4 linked regions of the Homo sapiens genome follow. The protein of the gene in region 3 interacts with the protein of the main gene of each other region in a pairwise test. Each region holds a gene or a part of one and is shown on either strand. Other genes may lie near its edges. The genes, in order: CYB5R3, ASGR2, UBIAD1 and CD33.

Region 1 (7,022 bases), on a different chromosome or scaffold from region 3:
TTGGGAGGCCGAGGCAGGTGAATCACCTGAGGTCAGGAGTTGGAGACCAGCCTGGACAACATGGAAAAACCGCGTCTCTACCAAAAATACAAAAATTAGCCAGGTATGGTAGCGGGCGTCTGCAATCCCAGCTACTCAGGATGCTGAGGCATGAGAATCACTTGAACCCAGGAGGCAGAGGTTGCAGTGAGCCGAGATCATGCCACTGGACTCCAGCCTGGGTGACAAGAGCCAAGACTCCATCTCAAAAAAAAAAAATTGAATAAGGCTTGTGGATTAGATAATAGTGTTGTACCAATGTTACTTTCCTGTAATTATTCTGTGGTTACGCAAAGGAATGTCCTTGTTCTTAGGAGATACACACTGAAATATTTAGGGGCAAAGGGGCAACTTACTCTTAAATGGTTCAAAATATAGACACAGTTGACCCTTGAACATGGGTTGGAACTGCTTGATTCACTTTTTTTTTTTTTTGGAATTTCTGACAAATCTTATTTTATTCAGATAGCAGTCTGATCACACCTGGTCCAACAACACTCAAATAATAAATCAAATATAATCAGATGTTAAGACTGGTCTTCAAACATTCTAGCCAATGATGCCACGCTTGCCTGTGATCTCTCTGACATAAAACCACGTCGACACCTCAGTGGCCACCAAACCGTTCAGCAAAGCTTCCTTAACTGTGAGCTGTTTGAAGCTACCAGTCTGAGCACTACTGACTATTTTTTTCAGGCTCTGAATAGCTCTAGGGATCTCAGCAGGGGTGGGAGGAACCAGCTCAACCGTGGTGTAGTACCAAAATGCGGCCAATCGAGGCTTCAAGTAAGTCACAGCAGCATTCACCAGTGCTGGGGTCTTCTCCACAAGGTTACGGACAAATGGAGCCATGGTTCTGGGATGGAAAGTCCATCATCCCGAATGGCCAGCTGAAGGTCACCCCCCGGAAGGACCCTGCGTGGTTCACTTATTTATTTATTTATTTATTTATTTATTTATTTATTTATTTATTTGAGATGGAGTCTCACTCTATCACCCAGGCTGGAGTACAGTGGTGTGATCTTGGCTAACTGTGACCTCCGCCTCCCGGGTTCAAGTGATTTTCCTGCCTCAGCCTCCCGAGTAGCTGGGATTACAGGTGAGCACCACCACGTCTGGCTAATTTTTGTACTTTTAGTAGAGACAATGTTTCGCCATGTTGGCCAGGCTGGTCTTGAACTCCTGACCTCATGATCCACCCACCTCGGCCTCCCAAAGTGCTGGGATTACAGGCGTGAGCCACTGTGCCCGGCCAGGACCCTGAGTGGTTCACTTATACAAGGATCTTCTTCCTCTTCTGTCACCCGAGACAGCAAGACTACCCCCTGCCTCCTCCTCAGCCTTCTCAACGTGAGAACAAGGATGAAGACCTTTATGATGATCCACTTCCTCTTAATGAATAGTAAATATGTTTTCTCTTCCTTATGATTTTTTTTTCTCTTTATTTATTTTTTGAGACGGAGTCTTGCTGTCACCCAGGCTGGAGTGCAGTGGCACGGTCTCAGCTCACTGCAACCTCCAACTCCCAGGTTGAAGCAATTCTTCTGTCTCAGCCTCCCGAGTAGCTGGGATCACAGGCGCACGTCACCACTCCTGGCTCATTTTTGTATTTTTAGTAGAGACAGGGTTTCACCATGTTGGCCAGGCTGGTCTTGAAGTCCTGACCTGGTGATCCTCCTGCCTCGGCCTCCCAAAGTGCTGGGGTTACAGGCGTGAGCCACCACGCCCGGCCCCTTATGATTTTTAAAATAACAGTTTTCTCTAGCTTACTTTACTGTAAAAATATAGTATATAATACATACAATATACAAATATGTTATTGGTAAGGCTTCTAGTCAATAGTATATTAGTAGGAAAGTTTTGGGGGAACCAGAAGTTATACATGGATTTTCTTTTTTTTTTCTTTTATTTAAGACAGATCTGGCCCAGGCTGGAATGCAGTGGCGCGATCTTGTCTCACTCCAACCTCCGCCTTCTGGGCTCCAGCGATTCTCCTGCCTCAACCTCCCAAGTAGCTGGGATTACAGGCGCACGCCACCACACTTGGCTAATTTTTATTTTCTGTTTTGTTTTGTTTTTTTGAGATGGAGTCTGGCTCTGTCACCCAGGCTGGAGTGCAGTGGTGAGATCTCAACTCACAGCAACCTCCACCTCCCGGGTTCAATCGATTCTCCTGCCTCAGCATCCCAAGTGGGTGGGATTACAGGCGCCCACCACCACACCCAGTTAATTTTTGTATCATTAGTAGAGACGAGTTTTCATCATGTTGGCCAGGCTGGTCTCGAACTTCTGACCTCAGGTGATCTGCCTGCCTTGGCCTCCCAAAGTGCTGGGATTACAGACATGAGCCACAGCGCCTGGCCAATTTTTGTATTTTTAGTAGAGCCGGGGTTTTTTCTCATTGGCCAGGCTGGTCTCATCGAACTCCTGACCTCAAGTGATCCACCCGCCTCAGCCTCCCACAGTACTGGGATTACAGGCATGAGCCACTGCACCCAGCCTATACGTGGACTGTCAACTATACAGGTCAGCCCCTAACCCCCATACCATTCAAGGGTCCACTGTATGGATATGCACACATGTAGTATCTAATATATTTAACATACATTAGATATATACTGTATAGAGAGAAATAAAGCAAATGTAGCAAATAATAACATTAGGTACATCTGGGTGAAGAGTACATAAGAGCTCTTTTTTTTTTTTTGAGACAGGGTTTCACTCTATCACCCAGGCTGGAATGCAGTGGCGTGATCTCAGCTCACTATAGCCTTGACCTCTTGTACCCAAGCAATCCTCCCAGCCCAGTCCCCGAAGTAACTGGGGCTACAGGCACGTACCACCAGGCCTTGGTAATTTTTTTGTATTTTTTGTAGAGATGCGGTTTCACCATGTTGCCCAGGCTAATCTCAAACTTCTGAGCTCAAGCCAACAGCCAGCCTCAGCCTTCCAAGTTCTAGGATTGCAGGTATAAGCCCCTGCGTCCAGCCCATAAATGTTCTTTTACAGTAACTTTGAAATTATTATTTTTTTTGAGATGGAGTCTCGCTCTGTTGCCCAGGCTGGAGTGCAGTGGCACGATCTCAGCTCACTGCAAGCTCTGCCTCCTGGGTTCACACCATTCTCCTGCCTCAGCCTCCCGAGTAGCTGGGACTACAGGCGTTCGCCACCAAGCCCAGTTAATTTTTGGTATTTTTAGTAGAGACGGGGTTTCACTGCGTTAGCCAGGATGGTCTCGATCTCCTGACCTCGTGATCCGCCCGCCTCAGCCTCCCAAAGTGCTGGGATTACAGGCGTGAGCCACCTCGCCCGGCCAGTAATTTGAAATTATTTCAAAATAAAAAGTGTGTGAAGCCCATACTGGTAGTTCAACTAGAGAGGCTGAGAAGCCAAAGTTCATATAAAACACTGGCTCTCAAGAAAGCTGTTTCAGAGCTTGTTTATACACCCTCCCCATATACCTCCCTGATTGTAGTTCTCCCAGCAAATGTGCATGTGTGTTCTCTTATCATTACCCTACAAGTTCCCTTTTCACTTTGAGTGCCAGGAAGCTGAGAAACAAGTTCCTTGCATGCGTGCAGGCCTCTCTACTTGCTTTGTGGGACCTGCTACGGGCCCCTTGAGGTAGTATATCCTGCAGAACACAGACAAGTGCCTCTGCTCTATTCAGAGCCAGGTAAGATGCTCCTAACCTCTCAAGGCCTAGCCCCATTGCCCCTCCCCTTCTGGAAACACTACCAGGAGTCCCTACTCTCCAACAATTTGAGGAGGACGCTCTGGTGGAGCCACGTGTCCTGTCTGTAAAAAGCGAGGGCCACTGCCTGGCCTATCTCCTTGAAGCGATGTGAGATGAGATGAGCTGGGGCCCAGGTCACGTAGGGGTCTATAACCTGGGAAGTCCCGGCTCACACACAGGAGCTTTTCCTGCCACCCTCACGGGGCCACTACCAACTGAGAGGAGTGGAATAGCCAAGTGAAGGAAGGGCAGGGTGCTACAACCTCACACCAGGCCTGGCCCCCGCCCCCCCACCCCCCACCCTGCAACGGCCCAGCAGCTCCAAGCTGCCCAGCTACAGTTACAGGTCCTTTGTTGGGCTTAAAACAAAAGGCCTCTCTCCCAGGCAGGGCCTCCATGCTGGGTGCAGCTGAGGCCTCGCTCCATGGGGCCCTTGGTATTTGACCCATGGGTCTAAAGGAAGGGCTGTGGATGCCTAGCCCACCCCTCACCCATGCCCAGGGCCACCCAGCTGGGGTCTCTGGCCACCACCCATTTAATCAGCATGGCCCAGGTGTTTCACTCATCCCAGGCCTCCTTTAAGGCCCCAGTTGGCAGCTGTGGACTTGGGTCAGAGAGACCAGGGTTTGAGTCCCAGCTAAGGATGGCAGGAGAGTCGCTTCACTTCCCCGGGCCCTACCTGGAGGATGGGGAGGGTGGGGAGGAAGGAGGCACACAGCGGTCAGCGCCCCTGAGCTGGCACTGTTCTGAGTAGGGGCCGCGGGTTTCCTGGAATACTCCCCACCTCAACCCTAGGCTGCGGGCACTGTGATCATCCCAGCACGTGAGGAAACTGAGGCCAGGAAAGGGGAGTGACCTGCCCGGAGTACACCAAAGCCAGCCCTCCAAGCATCGCTCACCACATGACACTGTTATCTATCCCTCAGATAGATGAAGTGACCTGCCAAGGTCATATAGCCATTCAGGGTGGGCCGGGAGTGGACTCTCAATGTCCAGCCCAAAGTGCTGCTCTTCCTGAGCCACCTCCCAGGACAGGGGCACTCTTTCTGCTCCAGTCAAAGAGCTCACAGCCCAAATCTGACATCCTGCCTCCCACAGTGAGGCCTGAGCACCTGCCCCCAGCCCCGGGGGTCCGAACCAACAGGCGGCTCCACCCCTCCTCAAATACCCACCATAGCTCCCCACTGCCTACCTGAAGGCACCCTCTCTATGGCCCCAACTCTGGACTCACCTCCCAGCTCTCTGCTCTTTCAACATCAAGCCCATCTTGCTTCAGGCGTTCGCATATGCTCTCCTCTCTGCCCCAAATGTCCTTGCTCTGCATGCATCCAACCAGCAAACTCCTATTCATTCCTCAGAGCCTAGCTCAAACATCAAATCTTCCCTGATGAGCCCTTCCCTAGCTAACCAGGCCCTTGGTAGACTTTTCACAGCCCCTGGTCCCTTCTGGAAACTCCCTGGGGCAAGTACTATTCCGAGGATTCCTCTGCTATCGACCTCTCCCTCAGTCACAGAAACCACGCCCACGTGGAATAGAGTCTAGGGAAAAAGTTGGCCGAAGTTACATTCACAGGAAATCACCATTGTTGGGGGCCCTGGCAATGAACTTGAATGACATTAGGAGCTGGGGTTGTGCTTGGTGCTCCCTGGAGTTCTGTTTTTCCAGCACAGCTGCGTCAGTGCACAGCCCAGCTTAAGGCCCCTCCGCGGGCAGCTGGCTTCACGGGCTGCGAGGCACCTTCCCCCATTTCCTCCCCGGCCCTCCCACAGTGGTGCAAGGTGGGAACAACCAGGCTCCCCGTGTGACAATGAGGGGACAAATGTAGCTCAAGGAGGCCCAGGGTGGAGCCTGGTTTCTGATTTTCTGTTGCTTTCCCACTTCCCTCCCTTGCCCTAAACCTAAACCCATGGAAGTGAGCCTGGGTGGGCGCTGGGCCAAGAAAAAGACACCCGCGTATTAGTGGCTCCGATGGCAAGTCCCCGAATGCTGGCCTCCAACCCCAGGCTGCCGGCTCCCCACAAGTCTCCAGAAGTGGCCCTGGAGCAGACCGCAGGATCTGTGTCTGTCGTCACCACTGTATCCCCAACACTCCACACAGAAAGCACTCAACAAATATTTGTGGAATGAATTAGTGAAGGGACAACAGGCTCCCACCCTCCCAGTGTTTTTATTTTGCCTAGAAGTTTCCAGAACCAGGACAAGAGCCCAGACTCCTGGATGAGGGCGCGGCACAGCCTGTCCTGTTTGTCAGAAAAGCCCGCTTGTCCTCCAAGAGCACAGGCCTCAGAGGTGGGCTTAGGATCCGGCTCCAGGCTGTTTCCACGCCTGTTCCACACTCAGAGAGGACATACGCAGCTCCCGTGGCTGAGCTGGGAGTCAAGCACTGCTCAGAAGGCCAGGCTCGCCGTGGGCAGCAGATGAGAGTCAAGGACCTTCCTTCCAGTGTCTGCTCCCAACAACAGGGGCTGCCCGGAGCCAGGCGGGCAGCCTCTGCTCACGCCACCTCATTCAGTCCTCAAGCCTGTTCATGACTCCTCCCACTTCAGGTGAGGAAACCAAGCCTCAGGGGACAGACTTGAGCCCGGGGACACTTTCTGGCCACTAAAGAGAAGGGGTGGGCTTTTTATAGGTAAAAGTTCTTATCTGGGGAGGCAGCCACAGGCAGACCATCACCGTCGGTCAGTCGTTTAGTCCACAAACCCCAGTGGGCACTGAGGTGGCAGGTCCCATGTGCAACGCAGGGGACACAGGCCAGGAGGCCCCGCCCGAGTTCAAGCCAGACGGGGAGACAGACACCGGCAGAGAGGGCGCACCACAGCCAGGAGCAGTGGAGGGGCGAAGGTTTCACCTCCAGAAAGCCAGAGGCCCTGCCAGACTCACACGGTGGGGTGCACTCTCTTCCTACCCACACGGGTTGGAACAGGCTCTGCCCCGTCCTCGTCCACAGCACCACCCCAACCCTCACCAGCAGTGGGCCAAGTAAACAGAAGGCAGGTGGCTGAGGCCAAGGTCCCACCCCTGTGCCTCCTCACCTGTGCTGCGTGCACACTCACACACACACTCACACACACAGACCACCTCACCCCAGCCACCTGGGGGCCCAGGAGACAGCTGCCTCCCAGCCCCTGACCTAATGCCCACAAGCCATGCTCTGCCCCACCAGGGAACCCATCACCCGCCTCTCCTTGCCTCTAATAACACAGAGGGGAAGAGGGACACAGGGTGCCAGAGTCCCAGGGAGCCCCC
Region 2 (7,022 bases), on a different chromosome or scaffold from region 3:
AAAAATATAAAAGTTAGCCAGGCACGATGGCGGGTGCCTGTAATCTCAGCTACTCGGGATACTAAGACAGGAGAATTGCTTGAACCTGGGAGGCAGAGGTTGCAGTGAGCCAAGATCGCGCCATTGCACTCCAGCCTGGGCGACAGAGCAAGACTCCATCTCAAAAAAAAAAAAAATTTTTTTTTTTTTTCAGATACAACACTTAAGGAACCTAGGAAAGGAAAGACTCAGACACATGGGAATAAGAGGTATCCTGGTCTCCTCACCTTTCCTATGGAAGTTATACAAACTTTTAGTTTTCAAAGCCAATAATTTTCAGCCTATTATTTAAAGTTATACAAGTAATCACTGGAATAACTCTAAATAAACTACATAGTTTCCAAAATACCATAAAGAAGAAAACAAAAAGAACACCTCTCACATAGCAATTGTAAGAAAATTAAGAAGCATGTAAAGCAGAAAAAAGAAAGGACTAGGGTTAAACATATCTATTAGAATGTAAATGAGACACTCACCTATTAAAAGAAAAGGTACTTATTAGATTTTTAAACATCAAAAACAAAACCTGCCAGGTGCAGTTTTTGGATTACAGTGGCTCAGACACCTGTAATCCCAATATTTTGGGAGGCCCAGGCGGGCGAATCGCTTGAGGCCAGGGGTTCAAGACCAGCCTGGGCAACATGGCACAACACCATTTCTACTAAAAATGCAAAAAACTACCCAGGTATGGTGGTGTGCACCTGTAGTCCCAGCTACTTGGGAGGCTGAGGTGGGAGAATCCGTTGAGCCCGGGAGGCACAGGTTACAGTGAGCTGAGATCATGCCACTGCACTCCAACCTGGGCGATAGAGCCAGATCTTGTATCAAAAACAAAACAAAACAAAAAACCTATATAGGAGAAATACCTTAAGCTTAGCTGCCCTGTGCTGCCCCTCAGGGAATGGTCCAGGATGAAGCCAAGATTAATTTAAATTAGCATTTTTTTTTTTTTTTGAGTCAGAGTCTCGCACTGTCACCCGGGCTGGAGTATAATGGCGCAGTCTCAGCTCACCACAACCTCTGCCTCCCGGGTTCAAGTGATTCTCCTGCCTCAGCCTCCTGAGTAGCTGGGATTACAGGCACCCGCCACCATGCCCGGCTAATTTTTGTATGTTTAGTACAGATAGGGTTTCACCATTTTGGCCAGGCTGGTCTCGAACTCCTGACTTCATGATCCGCCCACCTCGGCCTCCCAAAGTGCTGGGATTACAGGCGTGAGCCACTGCACCCGGCCTAAATCAGCATTTTTAAGGGCGAGATCCAGGAGTCGATATATTTTTTTTAACTCTTGAAGAGATTGCAATGTACAGTCAAGACTGAGAATCATTAATTTAAAACAGAGATTCAAAAAGGTAAGAAACAAAAGGATGGACAGAGATACAGCAAGCAAATGCAAGTGACAAAAAAATCAAGGACCGTGGTATTTATATATCAGATAAATTCAAGGCAAAAAGCATTAACTGGGACACACGTTGGCTTCATAGTGACGAAAGCACCGTCCACCACGAAGTTGTAGTGGTCATGAGCTTATTGTGTGCCAAATCACAGAGCACTGAGATCTTAGGTTGAACTGCATGAAACTGACATTTTTATAGGTCAAAACTGATGAAATGTTGGCAAGTTCAACCTGATCAGTAAAGCAAAATATGTTCGTACTCACAGTATGCTGTAAAGTACTAACAGAGCCTGATGTAATGCAAACAATACATATATTCTGGCCCCTGTATCATATGGCTTAACTACTGTGGCATTAAAATACTTTGAAGTTCAGCCAGACGCGGTGGTTCACGCCTGTAATCCCACCACTTTGGGAGGCGGAGGTGGGCGGATCATGAGGTCAGGAGTTCCAGACCAGCCTGGCTAAGACGGTGAAACCCCGTCTCTACTAAAAATACAAAAAAATTAGCCGGGCATGGTGGCACGTGCCTGTAATCCCAGCACTTTGGGAGGCCGAGGCAGGAGAATGGCGTGAACCCAGAAGGCGGAGCTTGCAGTGAGCCGAGATCGTGCCACTGCACTCCAGCTTGGGCGACAGAGCGAGACTCCATCTCAAAAAAAAAAAAAAAATGGATAAAATAAGCCTGATCCAGCCTCCCAGAGCAGGCCTTCCAAGGGCTTCCTCCTGCCTGTGGGAAGCGTGGCCTCACCTGCTCCTCCCAGGAGTTGATGACCACCAGGTGTGCGTTCTCCAGCTGGCAGTACTTCTCCGCCTCAGCCCAGGCCTTCCCGGAGTGAGAGAACCAGTAGCAGCTGCCTTGGTGCTCCACCCAGTTGACGGGGCAGCAGGTCCTTTGGGAGCCTGAGGGGACAGGGGGCAGGGAGATGAGATCCAGCCGGAGGGGCAGGCACACTGGGCCTGGAGACGGCCCCACCCCTACCGTTGCTGTGGAGGAGCTCCATCTGGCAGGCCACGAAGCGCAGGTCCACGGGGAAGTGCTTCAGATGGAAGAGCAGGGCATCGTGATCTAGGACAGACAGGCTGAAAGTGCTGCCGGCAGGTGTGGTCCCCACCTGCTAGGCTCCAGCCTGTGGCTGGGGAAGCATATACACCCACAGACACGTACACCATGCATAGACCACACCACACACCATACCACACACACACCACAGACATGTACACCACACATAGACCACACCACACACAGATCCATCACACACACACAAACACACCAAGAGACACACCACACACATCACATGCGTACACACACATATACCATACCGCACACACACAGACTCATCTCACACACACCACCACACATGCATACACACACAACACACACATATACACCACACTACACACCACACACAGATCCATGACATATCACACCACACATACGGAGAGAGACACAGATACACATGCTTGCAGGCACACACACGCACGCACGCACACGTGCACACTACACACACCGCACACGTACACACTACACACACCGCACACGTACACATGCACGCACATGCGCACACACCCCGGAGGCTCTCTGACCTGCTTTCAGGTCCTGCTGCTGTTTCTCCAGCTTGGCTCCTAGGGATGTGATCTTGTCACCCACGCTGCCTCCTGGAAGCGGAAAGCCAGCTGTTTCCCCGCTGAGCCTCCCTCCGTCCTCATGCTGCTGGGGGACCGGGGGCCAGCGCCTCGTCCTGGGCGATGCAGGCGTCCACCTCCTGGCTTCCTGGACCACACCCAGGCTCCCTGCACTGCCACAGTGGCTCAGGCCACTCTCCTGCTTCAGTCCCTTCAATGGGTCCCCATTTTCTCAAAATAAAGCCTCGCTCTGTCAGCACGGCTCACCTGCGTGGCCGGGCCCCTCCCCACCTCTCTCTGGCCACCCCTTACCTGCCTGCCCCTCCGATGGGCCTGCCACACTCGATTTGCTCACAGGCCCAAGACATGGTGCCTTCCTCACCTCCGGGTGTCGCAGATCCAACCTCTCCACCTGGCACTAACCTCGTCCGTCCCCACCTGCCTCCCTCCTATACATCCCCCAGGGCCCCTGGACGCCTTGCCCAGCCTGCACCCCCACGGCACCCCACACAGCCCTGTTGCAGACTCGGCACTGAGCCCAGCAAACCTGTGCGGATAAATGAGAACCCAGCCGTCCAGCCCCTCACCGTGGGTGCTGATTGCCTGGACCTCCGTCAGGGTGCTCGAGGAGAAGTTGCTGAAAGCTTCCTTCAGGCTCCGCAGCTCGGCTTGCAGCTGTGCACCTTGTCAGGTGGTAGTGGGGGCAGGATGAGGCAGAGGGGCCGTGTCCCCATCACTGTCCATGTGACTGGCCCCTCAATGTCCCCGCATTTGCCCCAGCTTGTGCTCCACCCCGCCTCCATCCCTTCCCCTCCCATCGCCCCGATCGCTGCCCGCCACTGCCCATGTCTCTTTCCCTACCCCTTGCCCATCCCTGCTGGCCCCCGTGACCCTCACTTTGGGACCCAGTCACACAGATGACCACCAGCAGCAGGATGTTGAAGCTCAGGGCAAGCAGACTGAAGCAGACCATGGAGCAGAGACGCTGTGCCAGGGGCTGGGCAGGAGGTGGCCCTGTGGGAGAGGGGCATCAGGAGCCGGCAGCCTGGGTGTGGGGAGCCGGAGGGTAAAGACAGGGCACCGAAGCCTGAGGAGGCATAACCTGGGCGGGGGGATTGGTTGGGGCCATGGGGGGGGGTCATCATAGGCTTTGACCCCAGCATTTGAGCATTACACACACACTCTTACACACTCGCACCCATATTACCATGTATAAATATACACACGCAGCTAATCTGGTGCACACACACCCATGCACACGACTCAGGATATTCACATCAGCTGTGTGCAAAGCCCGGATCCTGGAGCTGGGGGACTGGGAGACGCACAGGGGGCGGGGGGGCAGACCCGGCCCTGCCTAGGCACACATCCTGAGAAGGGGGATCTGTGAATGGTTTTCCTCCCATCCAGCCAGTGGCAGAGGCCTCCAGATCACCTCGGGCCTTAGTCTCAGCTCTTCTAAGGCTCCTGTCCCCTCAGATTGGAGACTCCAGAAGCTGGGCCCTGTGTTCTTCCTAAAATCCATACTGGAACAGTCCCTCCCCTGCCAAAATTCCATTGAGATCCTTAAATCTGGGTCATTCCACCATAGCCCACTCTCCAAGCACAACCCTCCAGGTCCCACCTGTTGTCCTCATCCCCCACCACGCAAGGCCTCCTCCCCAGCGCCCTTTGCCCTCGCTTCCCTAGAAACCTCGTTCCACACTAAATTTGCTCCCCTCAGCCCGAGGTCATCTCACAGGTACCTCTCCTGCCCCTTGATCCATCTGCACCCTGACAGCACTGACACACACATTCACATGCCCTCACAAACTCACACACACTCACACACTCACACATTGCTCACTTCACTCAAAAACACACATTTGCACACACTCATGACCACGCTCTGCTGTACCCACTCTCACATGTGCATATGCATGCTAATGCACACATTCATACTCCCTCCCACACACACACACCTGACACACCCACACACGTACACTCACACACCCACGTCTTCCTGCACACAGAGCTGGGCTCCCTCTCTGCTGCCTCCAGACCCAGAGCAGCTCCAGTTGTCCCAGCCCTGAGCTCCTCTCTTTGCAGCATCCACCTGCAAACAGAACACCTTCTAGGCCTTGGACCCTGACTCTGTGGACTTCCTTGTCTTCTCATTCCTATCACCCCCCGACCCAGCAGGACCACATCCTGGGGAGGCTCAGTCAGGGGCCCAGAATCTTCCTCCCCAGGTCACTTCCTGCCACTGTCCTGAGTCAGACACTGCCCCTGTAAGTGACTGTCCATAACTCTTCATCTTTTTCACACCAGTGACTTCCACCTTCCCCACTGCAGCCACACTCAGGACCCCATTTGACCCAGGGAGGCCTCTGACACCTCCACTGCCCACTCCCGCTCTGAGCACAGCCCCACCCTCCCTCTCACTGCCCCCACCCCTTCCTCCAAGGCCTTTGCATTCCTCTCCATCCAGAAGCGCTCCATGACCACGGTGTTCCCCACCAAGCTGGCCCTCCATGGCTGAGTCCCTGACTGCTGTCTTCAGCACCCTCCACTCAGAGGGTCCTGTCCTGCTTCCCAGTCCGACTTATCAACTCCCAATGCTGGGTCAGCCCAGCAACGTGTCTGTATATCCACCCTGAAACCAGACTGCCCACAGGGTAGCCCAGCTGTGCCTCCAGGTAGCTCTGAGATCATGCACCAGCATTCAATTTCTCCATGCTTCCATTTTCTCGTGTGTAAAATGGAGATCACAGTCGTAGCTACCCGATTGGATTGCTCGGATAATTAGATGAGTTAAAATATGTAATGTGCTTCTTAGGCAAAAGTTTGAACATAAAAGACAGGGTCTGCCCAAGATGGGAAGAGTTCTTCTCTCCCCAGAAACAATCAAAACAAAAACAGACAACTATAGAACATGGCAGCTTTCAAGACTCTGGACATCAGGCAAGGAGGAGTAAAGATCCCTGAGGGATAAGAAGCAAACAACAGGAACCCTCCGATCACCCCAGCTTACTGTTTGGAGAGAGTCTGCAGGTTACAGGCCAGGAAAGGGAAGTCCAGGCAGAGCCCAAGAGACTCCCCACGTTGAGGAGATGGAGCTGAGAGTCCGAGGAGACCAAAACAATTAAGAGTTCAAACGATCAAACTGACTCTAAGTTGCTTAACTGCATCCCGGAGCAAAGCTCAAGAACATTTAGAGGAATACAAAAATATCCAGCACCCAACAAGGTGAAATTGACAATGTCTGGCAGCCAATCAAAGATTACAAGGCATGCAATGAAACGGGAAAACACAATGCATAACGAGGAGGTTCATAAATATCAAAAGAGATCCAGAACTGACACGGATGCTAGAATTAGCAGGCAAGGATGGTAAAACAGATATTATAGCCATATCCCATTATGTTCAAAAAATTAAGTAGAATTGTGGAGGATATTTAAGAGTCCCCAGGTGAACTTCTAGAGATAAAAACTACAATGTCTGAAATGAAAAAACACACTGGCCAGGCGCCGTGGCTCACGCCTGGAATCCCAGCACTGTGGGAGGCCAAGGCGGGCAGATCATGAGGTCAGGAGATCGACACCATCCTGGCTAACATGGTGAAACCCCATCTCTACTAAAAATACAAAAAATTAGCCAGACGTGGTGGCAGGCGCCTGTAGTCCCAGCTACTCGGGAGGCTGAGGCAGGAGAATGGCATGAACCCGGGAGGCAGAGCTTGCAGTGAGCCAAGATCGCGCCACTGCACTCCGGCCTGGGCAACAGAGCGAGACTCCGCCTCCAAAAAAAAAAAAAAGAAAAGAAAGAAAAGAAAAAACACACTGGATGGAAATAATGGAAGATGAGAAATGCGTAAGAAAAATTTAGGGCCAGGCACTGTGGATCACATCTGTAATCCCAGCACTTTGGGAGGTCGACACGGGGGGAATCACTTGAGCCCAGGAGCTCAAGACTAGTCTGG
Region 3 (7,995 bases):
AGATACAAGCCACCAAACATCGCTTGCCTGGATTATTCAAGAGCTTCCTACTTGGTCTTCCTGCCTCTACCCTTGCCCCACTCCCCTTGATCCATTCTCAATACCTTACCCAGAGCAATTCTTTTAAAACATTATATTACATCACTCCCTTGCTCAAAGTCCTGCAGTGGCTCCTCCATTCCAGAGCCAAGACCAGTGGCCTACAAGGTCTATATAATCCGTGTGTGTGCCTCCTTACCCTCCCCAAACGTACTTCTCTTACTTTACCTCTCTTTACTCTCTCCTTCATTCACACACTGGACTTCTTGCTGCTCTGTAAGCTCTTTGGACACATTCCTGCCTGAAGGCCTATGGCACTTGCTGTTGCTTTTCCTGAAATGCTCCTCTCTCAGATATCTGCTTGGCCAACTCCCTCACCTCTTACCTCCTTCAATGTAACTCAACTCAAATACTACCTTTCTGAGGCATGGTCTCACTCTGTCGCCCAGGCTGGAGTGCAGTGGTGTGATCAGGACTCACTGCAGCCTTGACCCCTGGGCTCAAGCAATTCTCCCGCCTCAGCCTCCAAAGTAGCTGGGACCACAGGCAAGCACCACCATGCCCAGCTAATATTTTTTATTTTATATTTTATACAGACAGGGGTCTATGTTGCCCAGGCTGGTGTTTAACTCCTGGCCTCAAGCGATCCTCTCGCTTCAGCCTCCCAAAGGGCTGGGATTACAGACATGAGCCACTGCACTCAGCCAAATGTTACCTTTTTGATGAAGCCTACCCTGATCAAACTACTTAAAATAGTAATCTGTGTCCCATTCTTTGCTCTACTTTTTTTTCCCATAGCACTTATCATCTTTCATATACTATAATCAGGGTGATCAATTCAACCTGACTTACCAGGAACTTTTCTGGTTTTAGCTCCAGAAGTCGCACATCCGACTTAGTCCTGTCACCTTAGTCCTGAGCAAACCAGGATATTGGTCACCCTAACTATAATTTTCTATTTTTACTTTCTGTCTCTTTTCATGATAATACGTAAGTTTCACAAGGGCAGGGATCTGTGACTGCTGTGTTCACACAGAACAGTGCCTGGCACATAATAGGTGCTCAATAAATAGGGCTTACCCACCTGCCCATCACTACCTTAATCAGCCTCTTGCAAGAAGTCACCTAGCAAACTAGCTAGAAGTAATTATCTATATCATTTTGAACTCTTCAGATTTAATTCTAATATTTGAAACTGTGGCATTATAAAGTATGAGTGATTAAAAAAAAAAATGAGACAGAAAAAATGTCCATATAGGCCGGGCATGGTGGCTCACGCCTGTAATCCCAGCACTTTGGGAGGGCAAGACAGGCAGGTCATGAGGTCAGGAGTTCAAGACCAGCCTGGCCAACATGGTGAAACCTTGTCTCTACTAAAAATACAAAAATTAGCCAGGCGTGGTGGCACATGCCTGTAGTCCCAGCTACTCGGGGAGCTGAGGCAGAAGAATCGCTTGAAGCCGGGAGACAGAGGTTGCAGTAAGCCGAGATGGTGCCACTGCACCCTTGCCTGGGCAACAGAGCGAGACTCTGTCTCAAAAAAAATAAAAAAAATTAAAAAATGTCCTGACAGGGCGCGGTGGCTCACGCCTGTAATCTTAGAACTTTGGGAGGCTGAGGCGGGTGGATCACGAGGTCAGGAAATCGAGACCATCCTGGCCAACATGGTGACACCCCGTCTCTAATAAAAATACAAAAATCAGCCAGGCGTGGTGGCGTGCACCTGTAGTCCCAGCTACTCGGGAGGCTGAGGCAGGAGAATCGCTTGAACACGGGAGGCAGAGGCTGCAGTGGGCCGAGATCGCACCACTGCACTCCAGCCTGGGCGACAGAGCGAGACTCCGTCTCAAAAATGAATACATAAAAAATAAATAAAAATAAATGTCCATATAAAATTTTCAGTCATGCCCTACGTCCGTAAGTCAAACCAGGATCTTCTCAAATCACTGTTTCAAAAAATTCACATCACCCACAATTATAGACTTCAATTAAAGCGGCTTAAATTAGAAAGCCACCTTTGACATCCCTATAACTCCTTTACAAAGCAGCGGTTTCCAGTGGACGCGACTAAGACCTGCAGCACACAGGACAGGCCAAATCTTACCTCCTGTGTAGAGAAAGGAGCCAGACAGGCCTCCAAAGTAGATAAGAGCCAAGTGCTCCAGTTTCAGAGGGGACAGGTAGTAGAGGCAAGCGGCACAGACGCAGCCCAACGTGTAGAGGAAGACTCCGAACCGGACGACATCCTGCGGCTCCAAGATTCGGTCCACAAGTGTCCTGTCATCACTCTTTTTGTGGTCAATGCCCTTGGAAAAGTCATAGTAAGTGTTGACCAAATTACCGGCCCCGTGCACAGCCAGGACAGCCACGGCACAACCCACCAAGAGCCTGGGATCCAGGACACCGTGGGATCTGTAGGCAAGGGCACTGCCCAGGGCCACCGGTGTGAGTGAGGCACTGAAGCTCCAGGGCCTCAGGGCCAACACGTAGGAGGCACACTTCTGCCTCCAGGAGCGCTGGGGGAGCCTATCTTGCTCGGGACAGTCGTTCCCCAGCGGGTCCCTGTCCCCAGCTTTGACAGTCTCTCCCGACAGGATGTTAATCTTCTCCCCCAGGACCTGAGAGGCCGCCATGGAAGCTCCACGTGGTTGAAGTAAACTCTAAAAGTGAGCCACGCACAGTGACCGCCCGGGAAGGAGGAAGGACGGGGCGGGGCAGCAGGGCCCGACCTTCCTTCGGTTCCGCCCCAGGACAGGGCTGGTGTGGCGGCAAGGTCCGGGGGCAACAGCAAGTGGGTCTTACACCCCACGAGGCCAAGCGGCGCCGCCCCTACTACCCGTCACCTGGGCGAAGTCTGTCTCCGGCCCCCAGCCCCGCGTTAGAGCCCACGGCTGAGCCGCGGCCGCCTTCTTTAGGCCGCCAGAGCCGCCATCTTGTGCGCCGGCCTCTGGAGGCCCGCCCGGAAACAGGTGCCGGCGGCGCGGGCTGGACCGGAGGGTGGGCTGGAGGGCGGGAGGGGGCGGGGCCGAGCCAGAGGCGGGGAGAAGGGCGGTGAGGGGTGGGGGGCGGGGGCCTGGTCAGAGGCGGGGCGGGCAGGGCCGAGTCAGAGGAGGGGCGGGGTCAGAGGCGGGGAGAAGGGCGGTGAGGGGTGGGGCGGGGCTGAGGGGCGGGGCCAGACCGGTGGTGGGGCGGGAGGGGGCGGGGCCGGGGCGGGAATGGACCGGGAGCGGGGACGGGCCAGGAGCTGGGGCCGGGCGGTGACCCGGCATCCAGCCCTTTTCCTGCCTGCACTGCGCCCCGCAGCTACTTCCAGACTAACTGCAATCAGCCTCTCTTAGCATCATAAGAACTCGAAGGCGTGTTGCTTTAGGACTTACCGGGCGCACTTTCATTCACGAAGTAGGATTCATTAATTTATTCATGCTACAAGCATTTATTGAGCGCCTGCTGTGTGCATACATTCTGACGTCTATCATATCTGCACCGTGGAAATACTCTATGATGTGCTACTGCTCACCTCTTATCAGCTTTTCATTCAGTGACATCCTTCAGCAGCTTGAAATCTGCCCATGGTGGGAGAATTTACACCACGCAAATCAGCAAATGCTTAATAACTGCTAAGTCGTCTAGACTTAAGAAAGTGGCGGAGAAAATGTTCATATTACTGGTTAAACTTAAAAGTGTTGGAGGGTGCGGTGGCTCACGCCTGTAATCCCAGCACTTTGGAAGGCCGAGGCAGGCGGATCACTTGATGTCAGGAGTTCGACATCAGCCTGGCCAACATAGCGAAACCCTGTCTCTACTAAAAATACAAAAATTAGCCGTGCGTGGTGGCAGGCACCTGTAATCCCAGCTACTCGGGAGGCTGGGGCAGGAGAATTGCTTGAACCCGGGAGATGGAGGTTGCAGTGAGCCAAGATCATGCCAATGGGCTCCAGCCTGGGCAACAGAGTGAGACTCCATCTCAAAAAAAAAAAAAAAATTAGCCGGGGGTGGTGGTGCATTCCTGTAATCACAGCTACTCGGGAGGCTGAGGCAGGAGAATTGCTTGAACCCTGGAGGCAGAGGCTGCAGTGAGCCAAGATCACGCCACTGCACTCCAGCCTGGGCAGTAGAGCGAGACTCCGTCTCAAAAAAGAAAAAAAAGAGAGAAAAAAAGTGTGTAAGTGAATGCACCAAAACTTTGAGGAAATATTCGTTCAGCATTGGCAAATTATTATCCAGTTGAACAAATAAGTCGCTTGTAGCCTTGACAAACTAGTGAAGTTCTGACATATCTCTTTTGATTGTTTCACTTTCCTCTTACTCCTAACATAAAATATCAACCAACATTCATGTCTGAACTATGCTCATTGATCAATTGGGACCATAGGGAAGCTACACAACATCAAAGAAAGCATACTGTGAGAACTGGCTATATGGAGTTTACAATAGAGTCCTGTACTGTATATTTTAGTATTTGTAAACTGTATGCTACACATCATTTACATCAGTGAAATTATAATACACATGCAACATAGATGCACACAGGACTGACTACATAATTTGTGGTACCCAGTGCAAACTAAAGAGGTGGAGCTGGGGGTGATAATGTGTGCCTGTAGTCCCAGCTACTCAGGAGGTTTTTTTGAGACGGAGTCTTGCTCTGTTGCCCAGGCTGGGGTGCAGTGACACAATCTCGGCTCACTGCAAGCTCCGCCTCCAGGGTTCACACCATTCTCCTGCCTCAGCCTCCCGAGTAGCTGTGACTACAGGCGCCCGCCACCACGCCCGGCTAATTATTTTGTATTTTTAGTAGAGACAAGGTTTTACCGTGTCAGCCAGGATGGTCTCTATCTCCTGACCTCGTGATCCGCCTGCCTCAGCCTCCCAAAGTACTGGGATTACAGGTGTGAGCCACCGCACCCGGCGGGAGGATCTCTTGAGCTCAGGTTAGAGACCAGCCTGGGCAACAAAGTGAGATCTCCGCTCTAAAAAATTAAAAAGACCAGATGTGGTGGCTCACACCTGTAATCCCAACACTTTGGGAGGACAAGGCAGGTGGATCGCTTGAGCCCAGGAGAAGACCAGCCTGGACCACACGGTAAAAATCGAAGAATTAGCCAGGTGTGGGCCAGGTGCAGTGGCCCACGCCTGTAATCCCAGCACTTTGGAAGGCCGAGGCGGGCAGATCATGGGGTCAGGAGATAAGACCATTCTGGCTAACATGGTGAAACACCATGTCTACTAAAAATACAAAAAAATTAGCCAGGCGTGGTGGCAGGCACCTGTAGTCCCAGCTACTTGGGAGGCTGAGGCAAGAGAATGGCATGAACCCCGGAGGCGGAGCTTGCAGTGAGCCGAGATCGTGCCACTGCACTCCAGCCTGGGCGACAGAGCAAGACTCCATCTCAAAAAAAAAAAAAAAGAAAAAGAAAAAGTAAAAGAATTAGCCAGGCGTGGCAGTGTGCACCCGTGGTCCCAGCTACTTGGGAGGCTGAGGCGGAAGAATCACCTGAGCCTGGGAAGTTGAGGCTGCAGTGAGTCATGATTGTGCCCCTGCACTCCAGCCTGGGTAATAGAGTGAGATCCTATCTCAAAAAAATAAAATAAAATCAATAAATAAGTGGGGCCAGGCCAGGCACGGTGGCTCACGCCTGTAATTCCAGCACTTTGGGAGGCCAAGGTGGTCAGATGACCTGAGGTTGGGAGTTCAAGACCAGCCTGACCAACATGGAGAAACCCCGTCTCTACTAAAAATACAAAATCATCCGGGAGTGGTGGCGCATGCCTGTAATCCCAGCTACTCAGGAGGCTGAGGCAGGAGAATCACTTGAACCCGGGAGGTGGAGGTTGCGGTGAGCCGAGATCGTGCCATTGCACTCCAGCCTGGACAATAAGAGCAAAACTCCATCTCAAAAAAAATAATTAATTAATTTAAAAAATAAAAAAAATAAGTGGGGCCTCTTGTTCAAAATCATTAACAATTGCAAAACAGAGCATGACACAGCTGTGAAGCTAGCTCTGTACATGTCTGCTTCCACTTACCCCCAATCTGGTTGTTGAACATTACAACTTCACCACTCAACACAGAGCTTTCTATGCTGGCCAAACCCATGAGTCATACAATGTCAAATCAGACAATATATCAGCAGATAGATTAAAATCCTGGCTCTATCACTTACCAATTCCATGTCCCAATATCTCTGTTCTTTGGCTTACTTATATATAAGGTGGGAACAATACAACCTGCCTCATAGAAATGCTCAGGAATAATAGTAAACAGCATTTATTGACTTTTCACATGAGCCATATACTTTGTTTGCTTTTGAGACGGAGTCTTGCTCTGTCGCCCAGGCTGGAGTGCAGTGGTGCGATCTCGGCTCACTGTAACCTCCACCTCCCAGGTTCAAGTGATTCTCCTCCTCAGCCTCCTGAGTAACTGGGATTACAGGCGTCTGCCACCATGCTCAGCTAATTTTTATATTTTTAGTAGAGATAGGGTTTTACCAAGCTGATCTCGAACTCCTGACCTCAGGTGATCCACCTGCCTTGGCCTCCCAAAGTGCTGGGATTACAGGTGTGAGCCACCATGCTGGGCCAAGTACCTCTTTTAGGTACTTTACGTGTGGTATTAGCGTTTAACCCCCACAATACTGCCTACCAACGAAGAGACTATAATCCTTCCAGTTTTACACATAAGGAAATAGGTACAAAGTGTTGCAGCCAAATTTCAGATTCAGTTAGTTTGACTTGACTCCAAGCTGCTTTTAACAAGTACTCTATAATGTCCACCAAAATCCCTGATACACTGTAAGTGCTCAATAAATATTAGCTATTATTTTAGTGTAATGCATAAGAAAGTTCTTTGTAGTGGGAGTTGAACAATGAGAACACATGGACACGGGGAGGGGAACATCACACACCGGGGCCTGTTGGGGGTTGGGGGGCTGGGGGAGGGATAGCGTTAGGAGAAATACCTAATGTAAATGACAAGTTGATGGGTGCAGCAAACCAACACGGCACATGTATACCTATGTAACAAATCTGCACGTTGTGCACATGTACCCTAGAACTTGAAGTATAATAATAAAATAAAAAGACTTGCAAAAATACAATAAAAAAGAAAGTTCTTTGTAAACAGAAAAGAAACCGACAAACGCACTTATTACTGTTGCTATAAAATCATCTTTGATTATTAATTAGAAAACAGGGCTGTATCATATCTCAGGGTGGCAAAAATCTCCTATATGGCTGATGGGAATAAAAATTGGTACCTCCCTTATAGAGATCAACTTGACAAGATTCAACAAAACTGTCTAACCCTGTAATCCCATTTCTGGGAATTTATCTTGATATAGCTGTCAGGGAAGAAAATGATATACGTACAAAGGCATTCACTGCAGCATTTGTAATAGCACAAATTTGGACATAACACAAATGTCCATTCACAGAGGACTGGAAAATGAACTATGGCACAGCCATGTGATAGAACACTATGCAGCTGTAGCAACAACAAAAGGACAAGAAACTCTGTGTGTACCAAGATGGAAATGAAACCGTCCCAACAAACTTTATAAAATTAATCAGGGGCCAGGTGCGGTGGCTCACACCTGTAATCCCAGCACTTTGGGAGGCCAAGGCAGGCTGATCACTTGAGGTCAGGAGTTCGAGACCAGCCTGGCCAACATTGTGAAACCCCGTCTCTACTAAAAATACAAAAATTAGGCTGGACACAGTGGCTCACACCTGTAATCCTAGCACTTTGCGAGGCTGAGGCAGGCAGATTACCTGAGGTCAGGAGTTCAAGACCAGCCTGGCCAACATGGTGAAACTTTGTCTTTACTAAAAATACAAAAAATTAGCCGGGTACAGTGGGGTGCGCCTATAATCCCAGCTACTCTGCCGAGGTGCACACCTGTAATCCCAGCTACTCTGGAGGCTGAGGCAGGAGAATTGCTTGAACCTGGGAGGCAG
Region 4 (6,930 bases), on a different chromosome or scaffold from region 3:
AGAAGCAAATGCCAGCACCACATTTCTTGCACAGCCTGCAGAACTGTGAGCCAAAATATATCTGTTTTCTTCATAAATTACTCAGTCTCAGATATTCCTCTATAGCAAGCCAAGAATGAACTAACACAATATTTTAAAAAGGTAGCCAAAGGTTTTATCAGCCACCTCACCAGAAAAGAAAAACAGATGGCAAACAGGCTCATGAAAACATACTAAAGATCATTTGTCCTTAGGTAATTATAAATCAGGAGAATAAGCATTCTTAGGTAGCATTACATACCTGAGAACATAACTAGAAAACAAAACAAAAATAAAAAGAAATGTTTAAATATTCTGATAATATCAAATGTTAACAAGGATGTGAAACAATCAGAATTCACACATAACTCCTGGTGGGAATACAAAATGGCACATCAACTTTGGAGAACAGTTTGACAATTTCTTATAAATTTAAACTGAACACTTACCATAGGACCAGGCACCTGACTCCTAAGTATTTACCCAAGAGCAATAAAAACTTACAGTTACACACAGAAACCTGCATGCCAATATTTATAACAACATTATTTCATAGTCACCCAAACCTGAAAACAATCTGAATGCTCCTCAAATGGTAAATGCATACAAAATGGGGGGTCCATAAAAACAGTGAGTTACGAGTCAGCAATTAAAGGGAACAAACTATAGATTCATACACTCAACCACATGATTGAACCTCAGAGGCACTGCACCAAGTAAATGAAGCCAGACTTTGGAGGCAACATTTTGTATGATTCCATTTATACGACATTCTGTGAAAAGGCAATACAGTAGGGATGGAAAACATATCAGCATTTTTTCATGGACTAAGTGTGGAGGGAGGGTTGACTACCCAGAGACAGGAGGAAGGAACGTTTGGTTAATGACACTCTTCAGTGTCTTCACAGTGGTTGTGGGTATATAATTATATACAACTCTCAAACCATATCAAAATTGCATATGATAAAGAGTTAATTCAACTGTATCTAACTTTAAATAAATTAAAAAATTTAAAACACTGGATGCCACTATGCTCTCACTAGAATTGTTCAAATATAAAGCAGGACAGTATCATACGTCGACAAGGGTGTGGAGCTACTGGAATTCTGGCACATGGCTAGGAGGAGTGGTAAAAAGTCAAAACCATTTTGGACAACAGTTTGGCAATTCCTACTAAGGTTAAACTTACAAGTAGTCATTAGTCTGACTATTTATCTTCCTGTGTATACCAATTAGTATAAAACCATGTATGTAAAAAGACTTGTACCTGAATACCTGTAGGGAGAAAACTGGAAAATCCTTGTCTATCAATAGGTGAGAAATAAAACATTATAGTATACACATAAATGGAATACTACTTAACAATATCACATTTTGAAATACAGACACAAACAACGTGGTTCAGTTTCAAAAAATATTATGCTGGGTCATAGGATACAGACACAAATTAACACATCTCTAGGAGATTTTCAAATAGACTAACTCACAATGAAAGAGGACATATCAGTGGTTGCCCAGCATAGAAGGTGGGAAGAAAAGCCCTTGGCATACTAGAAATGCTGTATATCTGCAGTGTGGTGAGTATACAGGCTGTACATACTCGTCAAATCTCATGCAAATGTGAACTTCAAGTAGGTGTGCTTTATTTCATGTAAATTATACCTAATTAAATTCATTAAAGAAACACAGTAAGACTCACATATTCATATTTGATCTTCTGGTCCATGAACATAGTATGACTTTATTGTTAAAACTAAATGTGGCTGGGCACAGTGCCTCATGCCCATAGTCAAAGCACTTTGGAGGTCGAGGTGGGAGGATTGCTTGAACCCAGGAGTTCAAGATCAGCCTGGGGGAACATAGCAAGACCCCATCTCTCCTAAACATAAAAACAAAAAGTTACTCCGGCCTGGTAGTATGAGCCTGTGATCCCAGCTACTAGAGAGGATGACGTGGGAGAGTCACTTGAGTCTGGGAGGTCAAGGCTGCAGTGAACTGTGGTCAGGCCGGTGCACTCCAGCCTGGGCAACAAAGCAAGACCCTGTCTTAAAAAAAAAAGCACTAAATGTATTGAATTTTCTATTACGTGCCACATGCTAAATATTTAAATAACTTACAACAGATATTATTTACTGGAGACTTAATTTGTTGTATATCAAATGAGGATGCAGCTACCTCTCTATTAGTAAGGATGAATGAAGAGTTATCTAGATACTATTGTGTGTAGAGATTTGACAAAGGTATGGTGGCAAGTACTAATATGTCCCAGGGATCAACGGTTTGCTGGATGCATACTACACAGAGTGATATGGAAAACCATGTAGCTGGACCTAAAGTTTAATTTTCTCTGTACACTCCACTCATGTTGTCTGGAAATATTATGTCTTTGGGCCATATTTAACTGTGAGAAGCAGATTTTTACATGAAAGAAAATGTTGATCCATATGATGAGCCTCTAAAAAAACTTGCTTCTGCCCACACTGAACCAAATGGCAGCATGAATGGAAAAGAAGTTTTTTCTGCACTGGTTCATAGAACATGTGTTCTCCCTTTTGTTTCACAGGAAGATGCTGCATGGTTCTTGTTTTGGAGATGTCATTGACACTGTGCAAATCAGTGTACTAGGTGCCAGGGGAAAATTCTATAGTCATATTTCTTTTAAAATTTCCAATATGCTACCATGATACATGGCAAATTCCCAACTTTTCACAGCTCTAAAGCCAGACAGCATGTGTGTGTGTGGTGAGGACATGAGGCTATGGATGGGGAGTATCTTAAGGGCAGGAATCAGGTCAGTGGCATCTCTTCTCAAGCCCCACCTATACACAAAGGCTCACTGTAAGAATTAAAGAAAGAGGAAAGAAACACGAATGGTGGCTCACCAGTCAAGACAGATTTTAGAGAAAACAAACCTGAGAGGAGTTTCTGGCCGAGTTAAGTCAGAGGCACACTCTCTTACAGACTAAGAGTTTTTAAGGATTTAGGGTGGGAGAGTTTATCAGAGACTTGGACTGCTTCTGAGTCTCTTTGTTGTGCTTATCTGGGAGAGAGAGGTGTGTGTCTGTACCCATACATCTTTCTGCAGCTACAGGCATACCCACTGAGTCTGCTTTTAGCTTCCCTATCTTAGTGCACCTGAAGGGAAAGGAATTTGCTTATTAAGGCCCACTGTTTTACTAGGGCCATTGTATGAGGGTGAAGTTTGGCAGTAACTCAAGAGACTCTCCCCCTACCTCCCTCTGTGCCCGAGCTGTCTTATCTGTGTTTCACTGTCTGCTCTTTCTGGTTGCTTGTAGTTAGCAGAGAAGTGATTTCCTTGAAATGCATGAGGCTAGAAAGGAAATTGGAACTTAAAGAGGCAGTGTTTCTCCGAGATGACGGTGCTCCTGCTCTGTCACTCACTATATCTTTAGTGAATGAATGAATAAATGAATGGCTGCCACCTTCACTTTACCTAGGACTCTTCTTTGTTTCTCTGCCCCAGACACTCACACGGACCCTATAGAATCCTATATCCTGCTGGACTAAACACCCCATGGATCTAGGTGAGGCTGCGACTCGGGCCAGGCCAGCAGTGATCAGCCCTGGTGTAAACAGTTGTGCACAGAAAAGCACCTCAGAGTGGAAGGACTTTAGACATGGGGTTCGCATGTCTCAGATGGCCCTGAAGGTACTGATCCAGGCTCTGGTGCTCCTGGAAGGCAAGACTCAGATTCTGCTCCATCTCCTCCCATCTCTGGGCGGGTCTCTGGCATCTCTGGCCCATGAGGGTCAATCTGTGTGGAGGGGACAAGCTCTGAGCATGTGTGGGTCTGAGGTTCCTCTTCCATGCAGGGCTGAGGTCTCCTGCTCCTCCCCAGCTTCCTGTCCGGCCCTGTAGTCCTTCCCCTCCACTCCCTTCCTCTTTTCTGCTCACACAGGAAGCCCTGGAAGCTGCTTCCTCAGACATGCCGCTGCTGCTACTGCTGCCCCTGCTGTGGGCAGGTGAGTGGCTGTGGGGAGAGGGGTTGTCGGGCTGGGCCGAGCTGACCCTCGTTTCCCCACAGGGGCCCTGGCTATGGATCCAAATTTCTGGCTGCAAGTGCAGGAGTCAGTGACGGTACAGGAGGGTTTGTGCGTCCTCGTGCCCTGCACTTTCTTCCATCCCATACCCTACTACGACAAGAACTCCCCAGTTCATGGTTACTGGTTCCGGGAAGGAGCCATTATATCCAGGGACTCTCCAGTGGCCACAAACAAGCTAGATCAAGAAGTACAGGAGGAGACTCAGGGCAGATTCCGCCTCCTTGGGGATCCCAGTAGGAACAACTGCTCCCTGAGCATCGTAGACGCCAGGAGGAGGGATAATGGTTCATACTTCTTTCGGATGGAGAGAGGAAGTACCAAATACAGTTACAAATCTCCCCAGCTCTCTGTGCATGTGACAGGTGAGGCACAGGCTTCAGAAGTGGCCGCAAGGGAAGTTCATGGGTACTGCAGGGCAGGGCTGGGATGGGACCCTGGTACTGGGAGGGGTTTAGGGGTAAAGCCTGTCGTGCTTAGCGGGGGAGCTTGACCAGAGGTTGATCTTCTCTCAGGCCCTCACCTGGACCCTCCCTCCTGATTCTGCATCCCCTCTTTCTCCTCACTAGACTTGACCCACAGGCCCAAAATCCTCATCCCTGGCACTCTAGAACCCGGCCACTCCAAAAACCTGACCTGCTCTGTGTCCTGGGCCTGTGAGCAGGGAACACCCCCGATCTTCTCCTGGTTGTCAGCTGCCCCCACCTCCCTGGGCCCCAGGACTACTCACTCCTCGGTGCTCATAATCACCCCACGGCCCCAGGACCACGGCACCAACCTGACCTGTCAGGTGAAGTTCGCTGGAGCTGGTGTGACTACGGAGAGAACCATCCAGCTCAACGTCACCTGTAAGTGCTGGGCCAGGATGCTGGGGTCCCTGAGGGTGTAGGGGAGACAGGATGGGCTGGTGCTGGGGACATTTAGTGTCCTGGAGGCCTGGCTGAGTTCGGGAGCCAGAAGGACATGAGCCCTGTCCCTTCTGCATTTCTGTGGTTTCTGGCAGGAGTAAGGGGAAATGCCTACCCTTATCTCATCTCTACCCCCAACTGAAGGAAATCCTCTCTTCCTCTCCTAGATGTTCCACAGAACCCAACAACTGGTATCTTTCCAGGAGATGGCTCAGGTAGGAAGGAGCCTCCCCGCCTGGGGCTGTTACTGACATTGAGTCTGTGTCAGGTTTGGTCAGATCTGGACTTTCAGAGTCAAATGTTCAGAGGCAAGGCCTGCAGTTAGACACGGGTAGACATCAGGCACCTTGGAAAAGGATATTTGGGGATGACTAGCAACTTCCCCCTTGCCCATCCAAATAATGCTCTTTGTCTCCCTCCTGTCTCTGAATGTCTTGGGGTATTTTATTTTTAATTGATATGTAATAATAGTACATATTTATGGATGGCATAGTGATGTTTCCATACTAATAATGTATAGTAATCAGATCAGGGTAATAGCATATCCATCATCTTGAACATTTATTATTTCATTGTTGTTGGGAACATTCAATATCCCCTTTCTAGCTATTTGAAGCTATCTATTATTGTTAAGCATAGTCATCCTACAGTGGTATAGAACACCAGAACTTATTCTTCCTTTCCAGGTGTAATCTAGTATCCTTTAACAAATCTCTCTCCTTATCATTGTTCCCCTAACCTTCCCAGCCCTTATTATTCTCTGTTCTACTTTTTACTTCTATGAAATCAACTTCTTGTAGCTTCCACTTATGAGTGAGAACATGTGGTATTCAACTTTCTGTTCCTAGCTTATTTCATTTAACATAATGTCCTCTAGTTCAATCTATGTTATAGTGAATAACAAGATTTCATTATTTTTTATGGCTGAATGATAATCCATTGTGTATATACGCCACATTTCCTTTATTTATTCATCTGTTGTTGGACACTTAGGTTTATTTCATATCTTCCTATTGTGGATAATGCTGCAATAAACATTGAGGTGCAGACGTTTCTTCAATATACTGATTTCCTTTCCTTTCTATAAATGCCCAGTAGTGGGGTTGCTGGATCATATGGTAGTTCTATTTGTAGTTTTTTGAGAAACTTCCATACTCTTCTCCATAGTGGTTATACTAGTTTACATTCTGGTCAAAAGTATATAAGAGTTCCCTCTTCTCTACATCCTCACCATCATTTGTTAATTTTCATCTTTTTTTTATCATAGTCCTCCCAACTGGGGTGATGTTACCTCATTGTGGTTTTGATTTGCATTTCCCTGGTGATTGGTGACGTTGAGCATTTTTCATATACACTTGTTGGCCATCTGTATATCTTTTCTTGAGAAATGTCTACTCAGATAATTTGCCCATTTTTAAATGAGATTGGGTTTCTTTGCCATTGAGATGTATGAGTTCCTCGTATGTTCTGGATATGAATCACTTGTCAGATGAATAGCTGACAAATATTTTCTCCTATTCTGTAGGTTGCCTTTTCACTCTGTTGGTTGTTTCCTTTCTGCATAGAAGCTTTTTAGCTTGATATCATCTCATTTATTTACTTTTGCTTTTGTTGCTTGTGCTAGTGAGGTCTTACTCATAAAATATTTTTCCAGACCAATGTCCTAAAGCATTTCCCCTATGTTTTTTTCTAGTATTTTTTAAATTTTGTGTCTTATATTCAGGTCTTTGATCCATTTTGAATTGATTTTTGTATAGGACGAGAGGTGTGAGTCTAATGTCATTCTTCTGCATATGGCACCAGTTTTCCCAGCATCATTTATTAAAGAAACTGCTCTTTCCTCAATGAGTGTTCTTCATGCATTTGTCAAAATTCAGTTGGCTGTAGATCGTGGATTAATTTCGGTGTTCTCTATTATGTATTATTGGTGTATGTATCTGCT

The links.
Region 1: the proteins of UBIAD1 (region 3) and CYB5R3 interact in binary tests that used the Homo sapiens proteins (3 or more experiments, as listed by UniProt).
Region 2: the proteins of UBIAD1 (region 3) and ASGR2 interact in binary tests that used the Homo sapiens proteins (3 or more experiments, as listed by UniProt).
Region 4: the proteins of UBIAD1 (region 3) and CD33 interact in binary tests that used the Homo sapiens proteins (3 or more experiments, as listed by UniProt).

Annotation. Positions count from the first base shown.
Region 1 is NC_000022.11:42,639,384-42,646,405, forward strand, and holds part of CYB5R3 (NADH-cytochrome b5 reductase 3), read right to left. Parts: intron 5,244-7,022; exon of another isoform or gene 5,127-5,243; coding exon of another isoform or gene 5,007-5,126; intron 1,219-5,006; exon of another isoform or gene 892-1,218; coding exon of another isoform or gene 589-891; exon of another isoform or gene 420-588; intron 1-419. Other genes in the region: ATP5MGL (ATP synthase subunit g 2, mitochondrial), read right to left, coding at 589-891. UniProt on the Homo sapiens protein: Catalyzes the reduction of two molecules of cytochrome b5 using NADH as the electron donor.
Region 2 is NC_000017.11:7,104,814-7,111,835, forward strand, and holds part of ASGR2 (asialoglycoprotein receptor 2), read right to left. Parts: intron 4,076-7,022; coding exon 3,959-4,075; coding exon of another isoform or gene 3,923-3,958; intron 3,745-3,922; coding exon 3,649-3,744; intron 3,095-3,648; coding exon 3,023-3,094; intron 2,505-3,022; coding exon 2,418-2,504; intron 2,339-2,417; coding exon 2,187-2,338; intron 1-2,186. UniProt on the Homo sapiens protein: Mediates the endocytosis of plasma glycoproteins to which the terminal sialic acid residue on their complex carbohydrate moieties has been removed. The receptor recognizes terminal galactose and N-acetylgalactosamine units.
Region 3 is NC_000001.11:11,268,209-11,276,203, reverse strand, and holds the start of UBIAD1 (ubiA prenyltransferase domain-containing protein 1), read right to left. Parts: upstream 3,007-7,995; 5' UTR 2,673-3,006; coding exon 2,144-2,672; intron 1-2,143. UniProt on the Homo sapiens protein: Prenyltransferase that mediates the formation of menaquinone-4 (MK-4) and coenzyme Q10. MK-4 is a vitamin K2 isoform present at high concentrations in the brain, kidney and pancreas, and is required for endothelial cell development.
Region 4 is NC_000019.10:51,221,154-51,228,083, forward strand, and holds the start of CD33 (myeloid cell surface antigen CD33 isoform 1 precursor), read left to right. Parts: upstream 1-3,926; 5' UTR 3,927-3,938; coding exon of another isoform or gene 3,939-3,965; coding exon 3,966-4,002; intron 4,003-4,064; coding exon 4,065-4,445; intron 4,446-4,649; coding exon 4,650-4,928; intron 4,929-5,155; coding exon 5,156-5,203; intron 5,204-6,930. UniProt on the Homo sapiens protein: Sialic-acid-binding immunoglobulin-like lectin (Siglec) that plays a role in mediating cell-cell interactions and in maintaining immune cells in a resting state.